2 linked regions of the Homo sapiens genome follow. The protein of the gene in region 2 interacts with the protein of the main gene of each other region in a biochemical or structural test. Each region holds a gene or a part of one and is shown on either strand. Other genes may lie near its edges.

Region 1 (7,035 bases), on a different chromosome or scaffold from region 2:
ACACAAATTAGATTCTTTGCCACTACCACATGTGTCACAGTTAAACTTTGAAGCATCTTCTGTGTTGACAGATTCCTTTTTTTGCCTGTGAACTTACCCTATTATCATTATTTGTATCCTGTCAGATATCTACTTGTAAGACCAAGAAAGTATTTGTTCATGTGAATCACAAAAGAAACACTTAAATTTTTGTTTTTAGCATATCTGAATGCTATAAAATATAAAAACTCATACTGTTTACATAGGACAGATTTATCATACTGCTGTAATTGTTTTCATGGTTAATTTGTTACATAGGCAATTACTAAATTGTGCCTTTGAAATACTTTATAAATTTTTTTAAATAATTAAAGATATTCAATGATGTTAAAGTTGGGTCAGCTAATATTTGAAGTTCTTAATTTATAATTTTTTTTCTTTAAGCCATAGATAATTTAGAATTCTGCAGTATTTTTCATCTCCAGATCTTAGGGCTTGAAATGGATTCTGATGGGTCTAATCAGTCCACTCTTGCATATATCTTGAAAATGGTCAGCATCCAACAAAGTGAAGAATAAACTGATAAATGATCCCTGTTTGGTGAACACCTCAGATCAGGATGTTCCTTGGCAGGGTATTCTGACCTGGTTTAGCTTTGGCCCCGTCTGTGCTCAGGGTTCAGGTATTCTGCAGGATTGGGTTCAGAGGGATTAAAATTCTCAGATTGGCCTGTATCAAAACAGTCACAGATTTTGGTCAGCCTTTTCCCAGAACCGTCTCCAAGATTTTTTCTTTTGTGTAATTCTGGAATCTAGGCTGGATTTGGACTAGCTTTAGAGGTTATGATAAAAGATTAATTTTGTCAGGCATTTATACAAAGGAGGTTTTCTTACTACAGAGTTTCTTAAGGTAGATTCCTTCTATTTTTGAAGTGTGACATTTACCAATCTGAAGTAATGTTGCCCTACATCCCCCAGACACTTAACTTTAGCATATTTATTTCTGTCCATTTTTGGTCAGGATTGTGCCTGTTTACTTATATAATATTCTTGTTTACTTTTTGTTTATTAGATACTTCTTATTAGTTTATATTGTTTTCCTGATTGAGGCTTGGGGAAAGAATTTTCCTCAAATTTAAAGTCACCTTACTTATTTGCAGATGTATGTCAGAGCAATATTCTTTTGACAGTTATCAAGCATTTTAGCAATGCTGTATGTATATATTATGAATGAATGACAGAGTCACTCATGGTCTGTCACCCAGGCTGGAGTGCAGTGGCATTATCATAGCTCACTTCAGCCTCAAACTCCTTGGTTTAAGTGTTATTCCCGCCTTACCTGGCTACTTTTTTTAATTTTTATTATTTTTATAGAGATAGCATTTTGCTGTGTTGCCCAGGGTGGTCTCAAACTCCTGGGAGCAAGGTGATCCTCCCACTTCTGCCTCCCAAAGTGCTGAGATTACAGGCATAACAATGTTTTAAACTGACACTGGTATACCTTCACTGATTATTACTGTGCACATGTGGTAATAATTTAACTTATAAGTGCATTTTATCTAAAAAATTTCCAAGATCTAAATAGCATTTGAACATGGTAGCAGTTTTTTTTTTTTTTTTTTTTTTTTTTTGAGCAAGAAAAGAGTTCTAAAGGGGTCAGTTTTATCTACAGATTAACATAATTTTTTTTATTGAGGTTAAGTCACATAACATTAACCATTTTAAAGTAAACAGTTTAGGTGGCACTTTATACATTCACAATGTTGTTCAACCACCAGCTCTAATTCCAGAATGTGTTCATTACCCCAAAAGGAAACACTGTACCCATTAAGCAGTTACTCTGTATTCCCCTCTTCCCTAATCCCTAGCAAACGCCATTCTGCTTTCTGTCTCTAATTTGAGCCAACATCGAGGAAGAGTACTCTGTACAATTGAAATTGCAGAAAAAACTTTGGGATGTGATTGTTAGGAATAAAAAACCACCTAATTCTTTGCATGCTTCTCTAAGTACAGTAGACATGCTGCCAGGGACTCTTTATGGAAGAAAAGTTGAGACTCATAGAAGTTTGCAGTTTTGTTTTGATCACCCCAGAGGGTTTTGCTCAAACTCTTAGACTCATTTGTATTTCTTCATTGGGTTATAAGAACTAAAATTTAATGTTCTATACAAATGTGAACAACTAATACTTGGTCTCCTATCTAGAACTTGTTTGCCTTTTAGGTTTTCTTAATGTATAGAAGAAACTAGGAATATTCACAAAGGATTTATTTGAAGTTACACTGGGAAACGATTTTTAGAATTTGAAGCTCTTTGATCCCTGTGAATCTAACTTTATGACTATTTTATTCAGCTAATCTTTGAGAATATTTAGAGTTTTGATTTGCGTGGCACTCTGCTTTTAATCCCTTGTTGAATAAGTGTTAGAAACCTTGATCTTGGCCCTATACCTGATCACCTCTAAAAACATGAACAGTGTTACAAAGGCAGTTGTTTAGTAAGCTTTTTTGGATTGTTTTAATTGGCTGACTGAGGGAGACAAAATTAGTTTTTTTTTTTCTTTCTAGAATAAAGGGTAATAAACTTGGACTTTAGAGTTACTGCTAAGATTGACATTTCCATTTGGGGCTTTAGAAATATATTGTTATCTTAAATTCAAAATGGTACTTTATCTAATTGAATTGAAATCTTAAAATTTATGAGAAACAAAAGTCACTTTATGTTCTTAGTAAATATTTCTAATGGGGTTATAGGAGATCTAAGTACAAAAAAAATTTAAAATTTTGTTATTAATCTCCCCTCCTTAAGGAAAATTTTATTAATATACATAATTATAATTTAGTTATAAGAACAACTTAAGTTGAGTACAGTGGCTCAAGCCTGTAATCCTAGCACTTTAGGAGGCCAAGGCAGGAGGATCTCATGAAGCCAGGAGTTCCAGACCAGCCTGGGCAATAGAGTGAAACCCCACCTCAAAAAAAAAAAAAAAAAAAAGGAAACTTAAAAAATGATAAGGAAAAGGATTATGTCAGAATATTTAGAACTCTGCAGTAAAATTTCTGGTTTTCTGTAATTTTTTTCAGGAAAATGTCAACTTTTTGTAAATACATGTTTCTGTGTTTTTATATATGCCTCATTAATTTTTTAGACTAACATTTAGTGGAAAGCTAATGTACTCAATTAATACATTTAAATTATAAAAATAACTTTTTTTTTGAGACGGAGTCTTGCTCTGTCACCCAGGCTGGAGTGCAATGGCATGATCTCGGCTCACTACAACCTCTGCCTCCTGGGTTCAAGCAATTCTTGTGTCTCAGCCTCCCAAGTAGCTGGGATCACAGACTCATGCCACCATGCCCGGCCAAATTTTGTATTTTCAGTAGAGATGGGATTTCACCACGTTAGCCAGGCTGGTCTTGAACTCCTGATCTCAGGTGATCTACCTGCCACGGCCTTCCAGAGTGCTGGGATTACAGACATGAGCCACTGCACCCGGCCGAACTTTTATCTTGAAGTAGATAGTGTCAACAAATACAAAAATAAAAATAATGTCTTTAAATGAGGTGATGTTTAGAGCTATATCCATGAAAAATATGGGATAGGCTAGGAGGCGGTGACTCATACCTATAATCCCACCACTTTGGGAGGCCGAGGTGGCAGGATCACTTGAGGCCAAGAGTTCCAGACCAGCCTGGCTAACATAGTGAGACCCCATCTGTATTAAAACATATATATATATATATAAAATATGAGGCCAGGTGCAGTGGCTCACGCCTGTAATCCCAGAACTTCGGGAGGCTGAGGCGGGTAGGTCACAAGGTCAGGAGTCGAAGACCAGCCTGGCCAAGATGGTGAAACCCCATCTCTACTAAAAATACAAAAAAATTAGCCGGGCATGGTGGCAGGCACCTGTAATCCCAGCAACTCAGGAGGCTGAGGCAGAGAATTGCTTGAACCCAGGAGGCGGAGGAGGTTGCAGTGAGCTGAAATCATGCCACTGCACTCCAGCCTGGGCGACAGAGCGAGACTTGTCTCAAAAAAAAAAAAAGTGTAGTGGAAAACTTTTGAATGAAACAGAATCACTAAATTCTTAGCTTTATTATAGAACAGTATTTAATTTGTCCAGGTCTCAGTTTAGATTAAGAAGTAGGCCAAAAAAAAAAAAAAGGCCTATAATTATCAGAAAAATTAATGAACTAAATCATCTGCACTAACATATTGGTTTAGAAGTTCTCTTGCTTTGTACATAATTCAAGGAATTTGATTATCTATTTTCTCGTCCCACAGCAGATTAAAAGGTGCAAATTAGATGTTGGAGTAGAGCCATATAGGTAGGATGGAGGGCCAGCTGGGTGGCAGGAAAAAAGTCACATTAGCCTGAGGCTGTTTAAAATAGGGACAGCAGTTACCTATACAACACCTCATTAGACTCTGAGTATATCATTAACTGTTATATTGTGCTATATATAAAGTATTGCTCCTGATGGAAAATTCATTGTGGGAAAATTATGTTTGTAATTTTGGGAATCATAAACATATATACAGTAGAGTGGTGTATATTAGAATATAGACCTCGCTAAAAAAAATAGAACATACACTTTGGAGTCCAGTATATCTAGGTTCTCATCTTCTATGACTTAAGCATTATAATTCCTCATCTCTAAAAACAGAAATGGTAATACTTTTATCTAAAGGTTGTTTGGAAATGTAAATAATAATATCTTTAGTATAGTACCTGACACCTTTAATGAATGTTATTTTCCTCCTTAAATTCTGTTTAACAAAAATTAGAAAGATATTCATCCAGAATATTTTTGATCAAGTTCTACTGTAAAATGTTAATATAGAAGCTACATATAAAACCTTATATAGTTTAGGGTTAACTGTATGTGTACTTTTGGGAGTGGTAGTCAGAAATGAAGTAATTCTTCATATGCCATTCTCATTTTCTTCCCACATCAGTCTATTTATATGGGCCTATGCTGTTCAATACTGGCCACTAACTATATGTGGCTATGTAAATTTGAGTTTTTTGAAAGATTTTTTTTTTTAGAACAGTTTTGGATTTACAGAAAAATTGCTCAAAAAAATACACAGTTCCCATTTATACTGTCCCCCACGGTTTCCTCTGTTAGTATCTTGCATTAGTGTGGTGTGTTGGTTATCACTGAGGAACCAGTGTTGATACATTATTAACTAAAGTCCATAGTTCACATTAGGATTCACCCTTTGTGTTGGACAGTTCTATGGGTTTTGCCAAATGCATAACATTATACATCCACTATTCTAGAATCGTGCAGAATGGTTTCATTGACCTAAAAATGTCCCATGTTCCACTTACTCATCTCTGCCTCATCCCTCTGAACCTCTGGCTACCACTGATCTTTTTACAGTCATAGTTTTACCTTTCCAGAATGTCATGTGGTTGGAATCATAGTATATAGTCCTTTCAGACTGGCATCTTCACTTAACAATATGCATTTAGGTCTCTTCGTCAGTATCTTCTTCTTTTGTTTTTGTTTAAAATAGAGATTGGTCTTGAACTCCTGGGCTCAGGCAGTGCTCCTGCCTTGGCCTCCCAAAAGTGCTGGGATTATAGGCGTGAGCCACTGTGCCTGGCCCTCTTCATGTCTTTTCATGGCTTCACAGTTTATTTATTTTACTGCTTAATAATATTCCATTGTGGCTGAGCATGGTGGCTCACGCCTGTAATCCCAGCACTTTGGGAGGCCAAGGATCACGAGGTCAGGCGATCAAGACCATACTGGCCAACATGGTGAAACCCTGTCTCTACTAAAAATACAAAAATTAGCCACACGTGGTGGTGTGAACCTATAGTCCCAGCTGCTTGGGAGGCTGAGGCAGGAGAATCGCTTGAACCCAGGCGGCGGAGGTTGCAGTGAGCTGAGATCGCGCCACTACACTCCAGCCTGGCGACAGAGTGAGACCGTGTCTCAAAAAATATATATATATAATAATAATAATATTCCATTGTATGGATACATTTAAATTTTATTTAAAATTTAATTCCTCCGTCTCACCAGCACATTTCAAGGGCTCAATAGCCACATGTACCTAGTGGCTACCATATTGGAAAGCACTGATATATATGATTCCCCCAAGGTTCAATTCTCCACTTCCATTCACTCTCATGGAGAACTTTCCTGTTTATATGATCTCAGTTTTTCCTCAAGCCTACATTTTCAATGCATTATCTATTTTGTTTTGTTGCTTGTACTATCAGCAACCCTCAATTGGTTATTTAAAATCCTTTACTCCCCCAAAGAACCATTATTTTCAAATGTTGTCCATTATAGTATGGTTTCCTAGGTTTTCCATCACAGCATCATCTCTTTTTAGTCTGCTCTTCTTTTTTTTAATTTTCTAAAATTTTATTTTGTTTTTGATCCTTCTTTTTTTAAAGAATTTATGTTGCAGCATTCTATAATAGTCTGATCCTTTTTGTCCTTAAACTCTGGAATCATCTTTTTGTTTTTTATTTTCCTCTAAACCTTTTGAATATTTAGCAGAGGTGTGCAGATCTCAGCACTAATAAATGGCAGAGTTGGTATTAGAATCTAGATCTCCTTATTCTAGTTCTTTCTTTTCTTTTCTTTTCTTTTTTTTTTTTTGAGACAGAGTCTCACTCTTGTCGCCCAGGCTGGAGTGCAGTCGCGTGATCTTGGCTCACTGCAAGCTCTGCCTCCTGGGTCCACGCCATTCTCCTGCCTCAGCCTCCCGAGTAGCTGGGACTACAGGCGCCCGCCACCACACCCGGCTAATTTTTTTGTAGTTTTAGTAGAGACAGTGTTTCATCATGTTAGCCAGGATGGTCTCGATCTCCTGACCTCATGATCCGCCTGCCCCGGCCTCCCAAAGTGCTGGGATTACAGGTGTGAGCCACTGTGCCCGGCTCTAGTTCTTTCTTGGGATCACCACTATTTGGGGCTACTTTTAGAAGTTATTTTGAAGAGGGTATTGGAGACTGATTATGTATTATGTGATTTAAAATATCTTTATAAGTTAAATCTATAGAAGCTATAGCTATAGATTTCATAA
Region 2 (6,344 bases):
GAGCCAGGGGCGGGGGGAAGCTGGTACCGGACGCTTATGAGGAGGCTCTGAGTGGACATCAAGGAAGCTGCAGGGGCAGCCCCGCAGAGAACAGCATGTCCCAGAATGCTGCTTAGTAGGGGACACTGGCCCACTCTCTCTGCCCCTCCCAGACTCCAGCCTCACTACCCGGATTTTGGCCGGCTGCACCACAGGAGCCATGGCGGTGACCTGTGCCCAGCCCACAGATGTGGTGAAGGTCCGATTTCAGGCCAGCATACACCTCGGGCCATCCAGGAGCGACAGAAAATACAGCGGGACTATGGACGCCTACAGAACCATCGCCAGGGAGGAAGGAGTCAGGGGCCTGTGGAAAGGTAGGTCTGGACTCTGGACGCAGGCGGTCTTAGGCAGAGCTTTCCCTCCCCTCAGGCTGGGGCAGGGACCCCAGTAAGGAGGGGACTCCCAGCATGGCGTGTTCCAGTGATTCTGAAAGAACATCACAACCAAAGATACTTCACTGACCTGCCACAGCCCCTCAAACTCAGTTCATTTTACCAGCCCTTTGCCATGTGCAGGTTGATGTGAGGGAGCCAGAAATGAACTTAAGACACCTTCACACGCCCAGGGCATGAGGACAGCAGAGGAGATAAGATGCAGCTACACCACAGGCAGGATGTGGTAGGGGTTGCCCCAGAGGTGGAGCTCCAGAGGCGGGCTCTGCAGAGAAGGTGACACCTAAGCTGGGCCTGGAAGACTGAACAGGCTCTAGGTGTGTGGAGACGGAAGGGGAGGGGCCCTCAAGCAGGGTCCGGAGGAAAAAGAGGAGCATCAGAAAAGCACAGCTGTGAGGAGTGGGCGCAGGGAGATGCAACGAGGAAGCGCTTCCTTGGGAGCAAAGCTGGAGGGCTCCCTATGTGTCCACATGGCAGCCACTGCGATGAATGCAGGACTCTCTCCGCATGTGAACCAGAGGTTGCAGGAACGTTTGCAGAAGAAACTGACCCAGTGAAGTTTAAGGGCAGGACACCTCTTAAGTTGGGGCTCTTCACTCACTTGTTGGGCACCCTTCAGAGCTTGTCCCCTTACCTGTGAAACCAGGGGTTTGATCCTGACAGTTTCCTAGGGCCCTGCTGGCACCACATTCTGTCACTGTTCCAAGAGCTCAGCCTCTCGCTGAATGACTTTCTTTTCTGGCTGCAGCTGGGTCTCCAGGAAGCATATTTTAATTTTGACAGCTATTGCAGATCACCCTCCAAATGTGGCCAAATGAACACAAGTGGGCCTCTCTGTTCTCTGTCTCTGAGGAAAACATGGATAATCTGAGAGTTGTTAACCCTAGAAAGGAAAATGTGGAATCTGCTCAGCTGGGGTGGGATCCTCTGGCTGAGACCATTGGAATGGGGCACTATGGCCCCAAAACTGGGGCCTGTGGCCTTGCAGCCAGGGCATCCATTTCTCCCATTTCCCATTCCTCCCTCCCCACCCATTTCACATCCCTCCCCACCGCCTTCCTAACAGGAACTTTGCCCAACATCATGAGGAATGCTATCGTCAACTGTGCTGAGGTGGTGACCTACGACATCCTCAAGGAGAAGCTGCTGGACTACCACCTGCTCACTGGTGAGGCCCTGGGCTCCAGGCAGGCAGCTCTCCCTCAGCAGGGAGGGAACCCAGAACTCCGTGGAGTGGGCACCACCCAGAGGCAACTGGGTTTTAGAAGGAGCAGAGAGAGAAGCAGTGCCTAGTAAAAAGTGCCAGGTACATTGTGGTGACAAGCAGGAAAGACCCCTGGGCTGGGAGGCTGGAGACTTGGGTTCCAGTCCCAGCACCACCTCTCACTATATAGCTTTAAGCAGGGGTCTCTCACCTTCTCCGACTTCAGTTTCCTCAAACAGCCTGCATGACCTCCCACCTCTGGGTCAGCCCAGGCCTAGTTTGCCAGTACTTACCAAGAGCTTAGCCCAGGGCACTGTGAGAGATATGGAAAATACTGTCCTATGCTCAGGGAGTTCACGGTTGAGTTGGGGACAAACAGTGCATACATATGGACAGAACACAAATGCACTCCTTGATATTTGCTTGTCCTTCCTCTGCAGACAACTTCCCCTGCCACTTTGTCTCTGCCTTTGGAGCCGGCTTCTGTGCCACAGTGGTGGCCTCCCCGGTGGACGTGGTGAAGACCCGGTATATGAACTCACCTCCAGGCCAGTACTTCAGCCCCCTCGACTGTATGATAAAGATGGTGGCCCAGGAGGGCCCCACAGCCTTCTACAAGGGGTGAGCCTCCTCCTGCCTCCAGCACTCCCTCCCAGAGAACAGGGGCTTCTTTCTTTTCGAATGTGGCTACCGTGGGTCAACCTGGGATGTAGCGGTGAAGAGTACAGATGTAAATGCCACAAAGAAGAAGTTTAAAAAACCATGCAAGTAAAAGAAAAAAAGTGAACCATACCTGATGGGGAGGGTTAGGGAAGCCTGACTGAGAACAAACACTCCAGGAATAGGTAAAAGTACTGCCTGTCTCCAGAGGAAGTTAGCAATCCTGAGACCTCCTGGACCTCCTGCCATGGCCATTGAGCACCACACTGACCATGGCCAGTGCCTTCCTCACTGTCTCCACACGCTCCACGTTTTCTTGCACTTACTGCTCCCTCTGCGTGGAATGCCTCATCATCTACAGGCTGTCAATTTTAGCCATCCTTCAAGACGAGTTCAAATGCCACCTCCTCCCTAACACTCTCAGGTGTAAATTTTTCCTCCTCCCTGGGAACTTCTGCAATGCCATTTGATACCATTTTTATGGTATTTATCACCTCCTGCCTTGTATTATAGTATTTGTAAGCTTAAATTATTCCTCATGCAAAGAGCAAGTTCCTGACAGCAAAAGTGGCTCAGACATCTTTTATCTCCCACAGTCCCTCACACAAAGTGAGCACTCGATAATGCAGGTTGTTTATGATTATCACAATAGCTAAGTCACTCTATATTAGGCCTCGTGCTGAGCACTTTACACACGTTATCCCAACAGCCCCTTGAACTGGGTAGTATTGTCCACATTAACTAAGGAAAAGACTGAGTGTCAGAAAAGTTAAGTAACTTATCCAAGATCACAGGTTAAAATGGTGGAGCCATGGCTCAAACCCTGACCGTCAGACACCACACCCAACAATGTTGTTTATCCTACTGGTAAGCTCTTAGCTTGGCCCTTTCACCTCCCACTGCTGATGTCTTCAACAGAGAGTTTTTTGGTGCCCAGTGTTAGAATGGACCCAACAAGTGAACAAGAGCTGCTATAGGTTCTCAAGCCTGGGAATGACGTAATAAAACTATACTGCAATTGACAGACTGTTCTTCCAAAAAGTGCCTCTATCATTACAGTCTTCAGCTGTAGCCACTTGTCTCAGTTACTGCTTTCACTTGTCCAACATTTCTGGAGCATCTTGTAGGTGCCAGGCCCTGGGTTATGCCTCCCTCAAAGAGCAGCAGATAAGTTGGTGGTATTTACTGAGCATGTATTGATGCTGGGCCCTGTGCTGAGTGCTGTCCAACATTAACTCACCTAATCTGCACGACTAACTCCACAAGGCAGATACTGTTATTTTCCTCATTTTACAGATAAGGAAACTGAGGCTTAGAAAGATTAAGTGATGTGTCCAGATTGTAAAGCTAGAAACTGGGAGAGCTTGGATTTGAACCCAGGTCTGACTCCAGAGTTTACATTTGTTGTCACAGTACTATCGTCCCCACAAGAGTCAAGAAAACCCATGGCATGAGGTCACAGTGCCCAAACTGAGTCCTCCAGAGCAAAGAGCAACCAGCCAGGGAAGGAGGAGAGGAGGGGACAGTCCAGGCAGAGGGAGCAAGAGGAGCAAAGGCATGGAGGGAAGAGGGCCTGGCATCGTCAGGGAATGTGACTAGCTGAGTCTGGTGGGAGCAAACGGGCCCAGGAGGTGGTTAGTGGAGGGACAGGCTGAGAGAGGGGCAGGGGCCAGCTCGTGGGCTTCTCCCTGAGTTGGTGAGCCACAGCTGAGGTGGGGACACTGTGCTATGCCATCACAGCACAGCCAGCCTCTCTGGAGAAGAGCTAAATCTGGTGCCACACTGTATTCACCCTGCAAAGCCCAAGCTTCTCCATGTCCTGGCAGGGGGCCATGTTAGGGCTGGCCACCCGGGGTGTAACTGAGCCCAGAAACACCCAGCAGCAGGGTGGAGTTAGAACCGCACCTCTGACACTTACTAGCCGCGGGTCTTTGGTTGAGCTCTTAACCTCCCTGGGCCTCAGTTTGTGAAAAAGAGCCTGGCAGCAACATGGCTGCCTTATAGAACTGTGAGAATTCGCTGCCTAACACAGTAACCCGTCTCAAAACGTGAGTTTTTTTTTCTTTTCCTTACTCCGACTTCTGCCTAAATCCCCTTAGCAGAAAAAAAAAAGAGAGAGAGAGACTGAAAGGATTCAGAAAATGCTTGTGATGAACAGAAGTCTGGATCCTCTGGCACTACCACTGTGTCCCGGGAGAGCACACGCATCTGTTGTGGTCCCCTAGCACTCCACCTGATGTGTTGGTTGTTTTTCTTATCAGATTTACACCCTCCTTTTTGCGTTTGGGATCCTGGAACGTGGTGATGTTCGTAACCTATGAGCAGCTGAAACGGGCCCTGATGAAAGTCCAGATGTTACGGGAATCACCGTTTTGAACAAGACAAGAAGGCCACTGGTAGCTAACGTGTCCGAAACCAGTTAAGAATGGAAGAAAACGGTGCATCCACGCACACATGGACACAGACCCACACATGTTTACAGAACTGTTGTTTACTTGTTGCTGATTCAAGAAACAGAAGTAGAAGAGGAGGAGGGATTCTGGTCTTCACTGCCATGCCTCAAGAACACCTTTGTTTTGCACTGACAAGATGGAAAATAAATTATATTAATTTTTGAAACCCATTAGGCATGCCTAATATTTAGGCAAGAGAAAATAAACCAAGATAGATCCATTTGGACAAAATGGAAGGTTGGAGACGTGTATCCCCGTGAAATCTGGTTAGATAATGAATGATAAGCAGGAAGGATGGCAAGCACGGGACAGGAGGGGCCCACAATGGAGTGGGAGATCAGCCACGGAGCCTGGAGGGATGCCACCCAGCAACACAGAGCTGGCGACTGCAGCTGCACCATCACACATGCATCATCAGCCTATTTGTAATATGTCTGCCACAGAGAGTCCTTTGGGATTCTAGGAAACCCAAGGAACAAGAGAAAAAACTAGAGCCTGTGCTAAAGAAGCCCTGCTGGGCCCATGTGAGGCTGGGGCTCGTAAATATTCCCTGACGACACTGAAGAATCAAGAGGGCAGCCCCCACTTTCCTACAAAATGGAGGGAGCCATCCCTTCCCTGTCCACCTCACCAGGGGTGCTATGACATGCAAGTGAGAAGCTGGGCATGAACGCACTTTATAAAAGCAAAAGCTCTGTGTAAATCTAACTACAAGGACAATGCCTTGGGAGAGATTTTGTCGGGACAGAGAGGAGTTGCCAGGGAAGAAGGTTTGAAAGATACGGTTGTCTAGAGGTGAGACCAAAGGATCCAGAGACTTGGGGACCAGAGGTGACAGTGGATGACGTGAAGCCACAGGAGCCCCACCCCCATGCAGCCTCTTCCCCACCCCCCCCACCACGTGCTCAATCATGAGTACCTCAAAGGATTGTTGGGCTTGGGGGAAAAGAGGTGGATTCCTGGGCAAGAACCTAAAGTAGCAGGACTCGGAATTCTCGGGAAATTATTATGACTCAATAAAAGAATTCACACCTTAGGTGTGGGAGTAAGAACAGCCACTTCTCTGCCTTTTCTTTCTTGGAATTTTCCTTTCTCACTTCTATTTCAGGCTTTCTATGTGTCAGGGCAGGGCCAGATCCAGCCCCACATGCCTACACTTCATCTGCCCCCTCTCACCCTGTTTAATTGCAGGCAAGTAGCTTTATTTTTTTAGGGTTCCAGCTCCTGCTTCTGCAAAAGGCAGGGTTGAACCAGACGACCGACTTCCAAGCTTAAGACTGTACATTTTTCGAATTGATAATGGGGACCCAAAATGCCACTATCTTTTTCTACTTCTTGGCAGCCTTGCGTAGCTCTGATGATTGTCAGGACTGGGTTCAAACCTCACCCCATTCTACCTTACTAACCACCTAGCCACAGGGAATCCTTGCACCTTGGTGTGCTACCAGAGAAGTGGGAATAACAATCGCTGCTTCACAGGCTTGTTGTGAGGGTTGACCTAAAACTCCTTGGAAAGCAGACATGTGGTGTGCACCTGCTACCTGGGAGGCTTAAGCGAGAGGACTGCTTGAGCCCAGGAGTTCAGGGCTGCAG

Evidence for each region.
Region 1: the proteins of UCP3 (region 2) and RC3H1 form a complex in vitro, tested with the Homo sapiens proteins (one study listed by BioGRID).

Annotation. Positions count from the first base shown.
Region 1 is NC_000001.11:174,012,358-174,019,392, reverse strand, and holds part of RC3H1 (roquin-1), read left to right. Parts: intron 1-7,035. UniProt on the Homo sapiens protein: Post-transcriptional repressor of mRNAs containing a conserved stem loop motif, called constitutive decay element (CDE), which is often located in the 3'-UTR, as in HMGXB3, ICOS, IER3, NFKBID, NFKBIZ, PPP1R10, TNF, TNFRSF4 and in many more mRNAs.
Region 2 is NC_000011.10:73,999,742-74,006,085, reverse strand, and holds the end of UCP3 (putative mitochondrial transporter UCP3), read left to right. Parts: intron 1-152; coding exon 153-356; intron 357-1,500; coding exon 1,501-1,602; intron 1,603-2,078; coding exon 2,079-2,259; coding exon of another isoform or gene 2,260-2,263; exon of another isoform or gene 2,264-4,346; intron 4,347-4,559; coding exon 4,560-4,674; 3' UTR 4,675-5,809; downstream 5,810-6,344. UniProt on the Homo sapiens protein: Putative transmembrane transporter that plays a role in mitochondrial metabolism via an as yet unclear mechanism.